Linked DNA regions of Homo sapiens. The protein of the gene in region 1 interacts with the protein of each later gene in a pairwise test. Each region holds a gene or a part of one and is shown on either strand. Other genes may lie near its edges. The genes, in order: BHLHA9 and RNF125.

Region 1 (3,570 bases):
GGGAAATACAGATGTCCTTAGGATGCTTTCATCCTAGTGGGCAAGGCAGACAATCACAGAAGTAAATACATACACTCTGCTTCCTAATGCCTTATTATTTTCTTTTATGGAGAAATTCACAGTTTGAAATAATGGGGTTATTGGCAATGCTCTTTTGGCGAGATGGATGTGAACCACACACCCATTCCAATGCCATAGGCCTTGGCATCTTAGAGGCATTTGGATTGTGACTGGGAATGAGTGGCCTTCAGGCGCTCCAAATAACTCAGCTGTGGATGCCGGAAATTCTACTGGGGGTCTTTCTTTGGGAATAAACATCATCTTTTTTCTGAGACCCTCTTTCAAATGCAAATCCCTGGGGGAAGAGGACAGAGGCTGCTCATTGAGTTCATAACCTGGCAGGGCTGTGTCACAAGATGGGGCTGCCCGAGGGCTCTGGACCCCAAAGATGCCCCTGATGTGGACCCAGGGCTGCAAAGGGATCTTCCCCGTCACCCTCTGCTGCTGACTCATCCCAGCTCTGCCTGCAGAAGGGGAGTCAAAGGGCAGTGGAGGGAGAGTCAGGCCCAACCAAAACCCGAACCCCAATTGCAGCCAGCCGCCCTCCATAGCTGAAAAAGCCGGAAGCTCTGGGTCAGCTTTACCTGCAGGGCCCTGCGCCTCCCATATGAGTCCTGCCGGGACACTCATGCTTTTCCTCAGTGACATCTCTGTGGTTGCCCACGGGACTTGACAAGAACTTTCAAGGTTTTGTTGTTGTTTTTGTTGTTGTTTTTCTGAGACGGAGTCTCGTTCTGTCTCCCAGGCTAGAGTGCAGTGGTGCGATCTCGGCTCACTGCAACCTCCAGCTCCTGGGCTCAAGCCATTCTCCTGCCTCAGCCTCCCGAGTAACTGGGATTACAGGCGCCTGCCACCACGCCCGGCTAATTTTTGTGTTTTTAGTAGACGGGGTTTTATATACTCTGTTGGCCAGGCTGGTCTCGAACTCCTGAACTCAAGTGATCCGCCCGCCTCGGCCTCCCAAACTGCTGGGATGACAGGCGTGAGCCCCAGTGCCCGGCCCTCTGCCTCTTTTTATTCCTATCAGCTCTCCTGCTAGAAGCCAAACTTAGCACCTTATCTGGGAATGGGGAGGAAGAATGTGGAACCCAGACACCCCACAGCGGCCCCAGAGCTAGGCAGGGCAAGGTCCCCGGGGCAGCGTGGCCGGGCTGCCCGTCTGGTCCCCGCTTACAAGAACCTGCAAGCTTCCCTCCTTGCTTTCCTTCTTCCCCTCGGTTCCTCCCCCGCCGACCTACCTGGAGGCCGATAATAAAGCAGGAGGAGGGAGATGGATGGACGGGAGGGCGGGGCGCCGCGTGGTGCCATAAAGCCCAGCTGGAAGGGGCCTGTCTCGGGAGTGTCCAGCCCCAGGAGCCGGGGACCGTCCGCGTCGCGAGCCGGGCCAAGGCAGTGGGCAGAGGGCAGAGGGCAGAGGGCCGGGGCTGGGGCAGAGGGCGAGTGCCCGGGAAGGCCATGCTGCGGGGCGCGCCAGGACTAGGCCTCACGGCGCGGAAGGGGGCCGAGGACTCTGCGGAGGACTTGGGGGGCCCCTGCCCCGAGCCCGGGGGCGATTCGGGGGTGCTGGGGGCGAACGGCGCTTCCTGCAGCCGGGGCGAGGCGGAGGAGCCGGCGGGCAGGAGGCGCGCGCGGCCGGTGCGGTCCAAGGCGCGGCGCATGGCCGCCAACGTGCGGGAGCGCAAGCGCATCCTAGACTACAACGAGGCCTTCAACGCGCTGCGCCGGGCGCTGCGGCACGACCTGGGCGGCAAGAGGCTCTCCAAGATCGCCACGCTGCGCAGGGCCATCCACCGCATCGCCGCGCTCTCCCTGGTCCTGCGCGCCAGCCCCGCGCCCCGCGGGCCCTGCGGACACCTGGAGTGCCACGGCCCGGCCGCGCGCGGGGACACCGGGGACACAGGCGCCAGCCCCCCGCCGCCTGCAGGGCCCAGCCTCGCGCGCCCAGACGCCGCCCGCCCCTCGGTGCCGTCCGCGCCCCGCTGCGCCTCGTGCCCCCCGCACGCGCCCCTGGCACGGCCCAGTGCGGTGGCCGAGGGGCCGGGCCTAGCACAGGCCTCCGGGGGAAGCTGGCGCCGCTGTCCGGGGGCTTCCTCTGCCGGGCCGCCTCCCTGGCCGCGGGGCTACCTGCGATCCGCCCCCGGGATGGGCCATCCGCGCTCCTGACCGGCCTCGAGGCACCGGCTGGGCTGCAGGGAGGCCGGGCTGGCAGCTGGACTATAAAACCCGGGACTGCAAAGGCGTCTTGGACAGAGCAGAACTGGACCGGCTGAGACCTGGCGTGGAAGAGAAGGAGCTCGCCAGAGAGAAGGAGCTCCGGGACCCGGGGTTGCGCCCCCACATCCCAGCCTGGGGCAGAGAGAAGGAGCTCCGGGGCCTGGGGCTGCGCCCCCACATCCCAGCCTAGGGAGGCAGTTGCCAGAAAGGCTCAGGATCCTGAACTCATCTTGGACTCGAACTCGTCTTGGAATGCCGCCTTCGCACTCCTGCGCCTCCGAGCCCTGTGTGTTCTCGATGCTTTTAGGAGAGTGAGGGCTTTGAGGCAGGAGGTGTGGGAGCGTGGGAATGCGGGTGGGGCCTGCTGTGGTCTCGTGGGCACATGAGTGCGGAGTCCCCTTCCCTGCCTGCGCTGCTGCCCAAGCCTGATCCGGGAGAGGCAGGATCCGGGAGAGGCAGGCAGGGGCAGCAGCCAAATAAAAGGAAAAACTCATTTCTCTCCGATACCACGACTCCAGTGGGCCCCGTGGCCCAGGGTGGCAGGAACGCCTGAGGGCTGGGGGCTCTCCTTGGAATGCTGGGCGGGGCCTAAGGCCCACAGGTAGGCGCCTGGGGGAACTCATTCATGGCAAGACCCCAGGTGTGGCTGAGCACTGTGGGAGCCCAAGGGGAGGAAAGAGACATCCAGAGACCCCTCCTCCCTGAGTCCCCTGGGGTGGAAGAGGATATCAGGAGAGGGGTCACGGGGCCTGGGAGTCTAAGGATGGGGTCAGCCCCGTCTCTGGACCTCCCTGCAGAGCTGCCTGGAAGCAGCCACAGTGAAGGGGGACTCTGGCCAGGTCTCAGGGAAGGAGGCCAAGGGCAGGGCTAGGATTGGGGGCCGGTAAGTCCTGCGTGCATGTACCCCGAGCGACAGGCAGGAAGAGCTCCCAGGGAACCGTGGGCCAGGGCCCCCATAATGAGGGGCCGACTTGGAACCCAGGAAGGATTCTGGGGAGGGGGTTGAGTGAGGGCAGAGGGGCCTCAGGCCAAGCCTGCTGAGCTAGTGAGAGACACAGCCAGCTGCCCCGAGAGTTTTGTCCAGAGAGCTGCCCTGCATCTGAGATGAGCTGGTGTCTGGCCCGGCTCAGGGTAAGGGTCTAATATTGCAAGGGCTGCCTGCTGGGCCAGAGCCCAGAGGTGCTGGGGGAGCGCTGGGCTCTTGCCAACAGGAGAGGGAAGGGTTCCCCACAGCTAGCTCAGAGTGCGGATCCCACAGAAGCTAGAGAAACGCCATTAGGCGTAAACCCAGGGAGA
Region 2 (3,811 bases), on another chromosome or scaffold:
ATCTCAACTATATACAACAATATAATGAATCTTTTGACCATAATATTGAGCTAAAGAAGACCAAGAATACATACCAGAGGGTTCCATTTATAGGAAGTACAGAAACAGGCAAAACTGATCTTTGTTATTAGAAGTCAATGATTAGCACCACCAAGGATGGTAAGCAGGGATGAGAAAGCTGCAGTCTATAGGCTGGTACAATGTTTGAAAAGTATAATTTTCATATGTTAAAATACATTTTAAAAAGTCAGTGATTACTTTGGAGGGGATAGAATTGTGTCTGGAGGCCGGGCACAGTGGCTCACGCCTGTAATCCCAGCACTTTGGGAGGCTGAGGCAGGTGGATCACCTGAGGTCAGGAGTTCGAGACCAGCCTGACCAACATGGTGAAACCCTGTCTCTACTAAAAACACAAAAAATTGGCCAGGCGTGGTGGTGGGTGCCAGTAATCCCAGCTACTTGGGAGGCTGAGTCAGGAGAATTGCTTGAACCCAGGAGGTGGAGGCTGCAGTGAGCTGAGATCGTGTCATTGCACTCCAGCCTGGGTGACAAGAGCAAGACTCCATCTCAAAAAAAAAAAAAAAAGAGAAGGAAACAAGAGGGGAAATTTTAGGGGCTGGCCACGCTGTTTTTGTTATAGGTACTGGTTATATGGATGTGTTCAGTTTTGAAATTTCATTCAACTATATGCTTATAAGAACTTTCCAGTATGTACAGTATACTTAAAATTTAAAAAGCCTACCTTTGGACATGTATTAATACTCCCAAATAGATATTATGTGCTGAGTAGTTTAAGAGGCATCAGGTCATGCTCATGTGTATAAATTACCCAAATGCTCATTTTTATTTCTATGTTTATGGAGTCTTCAACAACTCCTATAAATAGGTCAGAATTTTCTGGAAATGTTGATTATGTTAAGATTTCATAATGAGCACCTTTAAATAAACCAGAGAACATATTTCTTGACCAGAAAGGAAGGAAGGAAGGAAGGAAGGAAAGGAAGGAAGGAAGAAGGGAGGGAGGGAAGGAGGGAGGGGAGAGGGGAGGGAGGGAGGGGAGAGGGGAGGGGAGGGAGGAAGGGAGGGAAGGAGAAAATGGTTTTATAGGGAATTATAATGTGTCTGGTATTTTTACTTCCTTGACTTCCTGCTATTTTCTTATGTGACACACAAAACCCCACAGAAGAAAGACATATTTTCTCAAGAAATTTGAGGTAAAATCCAATTTAGACATTCTTTAAAGTATCGTTTAAACTTAGCCTATAGGAAAGCTATTTCACCCACTTTGAATTCTTACTTTTCTTGAAATGTGTGAAAGTGCATGTGGTAAGAATGTGTGATTCTAAAGAAGTCTTGCTGGGAAGGTAAGCAATTCTCGGGAAGTGCAGGGTGCAAGTGGACCTGTAATTTGGTAGTATGGCTCATGGGGTACGAGGTGTCATTAAATTACAGTTTACACAAATGAATACATGGTGGTGGCTCCTTATAGCTTTCAAGGAAAGTGATGTATTTTTGGTCTGTTTGGGGTAGATTCTGCCGTTCCTGTATTGCTACCAGTCTAAAGAACAACAAGTGGACCTGTCCTTATTGCCGGGCATATCTTCCTTCAGAAGGAGTTCCAGCAACTGATGTAGCCAAAAGAATGAAATCAGAGTATAAGAACTGCGCTGAGTGTGACACCCTGGTATGTATGTGACCCCACCTATTTTCATGGTTACCAGCTTAAGTCCCTGCGAAAGTTATCATTTCACCTCTGCTTCTGACCCCATGGTACGCACCTTTTTTTTTTTTTTTTTTTTTTTTTGAGACAGGTTCTCGCTCTTTCACCCAGGTTGGAGTGCAGTGGTGCGATCTCGGCTTACTGCAACCTCCGCCTCCCAGGTTCAAGTGATTCTCCTGCCCGCAGCTTCTCGAGTAGCTGGGTCTACAGGCACCTGCCATCACGCCTGGCTAATTTTTTGTATTTTTAGTAGAGACACGGTTTCACTATGTTAGCCAGGATGGTCTCAATCTCCTGACCTCATTACCCGCCTGCCTCGGCCTCCCAAAGTGCTGGTGAGATGTGAGGCCAGCTGGACTTCCCGGGTAGAGTGGGGACTTGGGAAACCTTCCTGTCTTACAAGAGGATTGTAAAACACACCAATTAGCGCTCTGTAAAATGCACCAATCAGTGCTCTGTAAAACGCATCAATCAGTGCTCTGTAAAGTGCACCAATCAGCACTCTGTAAAACGCACCAATCAGCAGGATTCTGAAAGTAGCCAATCGCAGGGAGGATTGGAAAAACTGCACTCTGATAGGACAGAAACGGAACATGGGCGGGGACGATAAGGGAATAAAAGCTGGCCACCCCAGCTAGCAGTGACAACCGGCTTGGGTCCCCTTCCATGTTGTGGGAGCTTTGTCCTTTTGCTCTTCACAAGAAACCTTGCTACCACTCACTCTTTGGGTCCGTGCCATTTTTTTTTTTTTTTTTTTTTTTGAGACAGAGTCTTGCTCTGTCGCCCAGGCTGCAGTGTAGTGGCGCCATCTCGGCCCACTGCAAGCTCCGCCTCTCAGGTTCAAGTGATTCTAATGCCTCAGCTTCCCGAGTAGCTGGGACTACAGGCATGTGCCACAATGTCTGGCTAATTTTTTGTCTTTTTAGTAGAGAGAGGGTTTTGCTATGTTGGCCAGGCTGTTCTCAAACTCCTGGCTTCAAGTGATCTGCCCACCTTGGCCTCCAAAGTGCTGGGATTACAGGCGTGAGCCATCTCACCCAGCCTCCAATTTCATATATGTACATATATCATCTGCAGAAAACCCTGAACTTCTACCATCACCCGTAATTTGTCAAACAAATGCTTTCATTGACCACCTCCATTTTCCCTTCTTCCCATTACTCCAGTGATCCTCTATGATATGTCCTCCAGTTCTGCTACTCTGTTGCAGACCACTAATGAATAGCTTTATTATCAAACCCAGTGACATATTTCCACCTGTATTGATCTGGACTTTGCAGTATTTGTCTCTATCAAGCACACCTTGCCTGTTGCAGTTTTCAACTTGGGTACTATATCAGCTTCCCCAGATCATGTGAGGTCTTGAAGGTTATGTAGAAGATTCTAGATTTTATCTTAAATGCAATAGTAAGCCAGAGAAAGAGAGTAAGTTTTGGAGTGCCAAGATCGGGCTTATATCTTTATTTTTATTTTTATTTGAGACAGAGTCGCACTCTGTTGCCCAGGCTGGTGTGCAGTGGTGCGATCTCAGCTCACTGCAGCCTCCACCTTCTGGGTTTAAGCGATTTTCATGCCTCAGCCTCCCGAGTAGCTGGGATTACAGGGGCCCAACACCACGCCTGTCTAACTTTTGTATTTTCAGTAGAGACACAGTTTCACCATGTTGGCCAGTCTGGTCTTGAACTCCTGACCTCAGGCGATCTGCCCGCCTCGGACTCCCAAAGTGCTGGGATTACAGGCATGAGCCACCATGCCCAGCCCAGGATTGTATCTTTAAGATATCACTCTAACATACACATAGAAAATGGTTTGGAGGCCAGGCGCAGTGGCTCATGCCTGTAATCCCAGCACTTTGGGAGCCCGAGGCGGGAGGATTGCTTGAGCTCAGGAGTTCAAGACCAACCTGGGAAGAGACCTTGTCTCTACTAAAAATCAAAAAAATTAGCTGGGGCATAGTGGTATACGCCTGTAGTCCTAGATACTCCAGAGGCTGAGTAGGAAGAGCGCTTGAGCCCAGGAGATCAAGGCTGCAGTAAACTATGATCGTGCCACTGCACTCCAGCTTGGGCAACATAGCAAGACTCTCTCAAC

The links.
Region 2: the proteins of BHLHA9 (region 1) and RNF125 interact in a two-hybrid assay, tested with the Homo sapiens proteins (one large-scale study listed by BioGRID).

What each region holds. Positions count from the first base shown.
Region 1 is NC_000017.11:1,269,049-1,272,618, forward strand, and holds BHLHA9 (class A basic helix-loop-helix protein 9), read left to right. Parts: upstream 1-1,395; 5' UTR 1,396-1,515; coding exon 1,516-2,223; 3' UTR 2,224-2,767; downstream 2,768-3,570. UniProt on the Homo sapiens protein: Transcription factor, which play a role in limb development. Is an essential player in the regulatory network governing transcription of genes implicated in limb morphogenesis.
Region 2 is NC_000018.10:32,035,586-32,039,396, forward strand, and holds part of RNF125 (E3 ubiquitin-protein ligase RNF125), read left to right. Parts: intron 1-1,530; coding exon 1,531-1,684; intron 1,685-3,811. UniProt on the Homo sapiens protein: E3 ubiquitin-protein ligase that mediates ubiquitination and subsequent proteasomal degradation of target proteins, such as RIGI, MAVS/IPS1, IFIH1/MDA5, JAK1 and p53/TP53.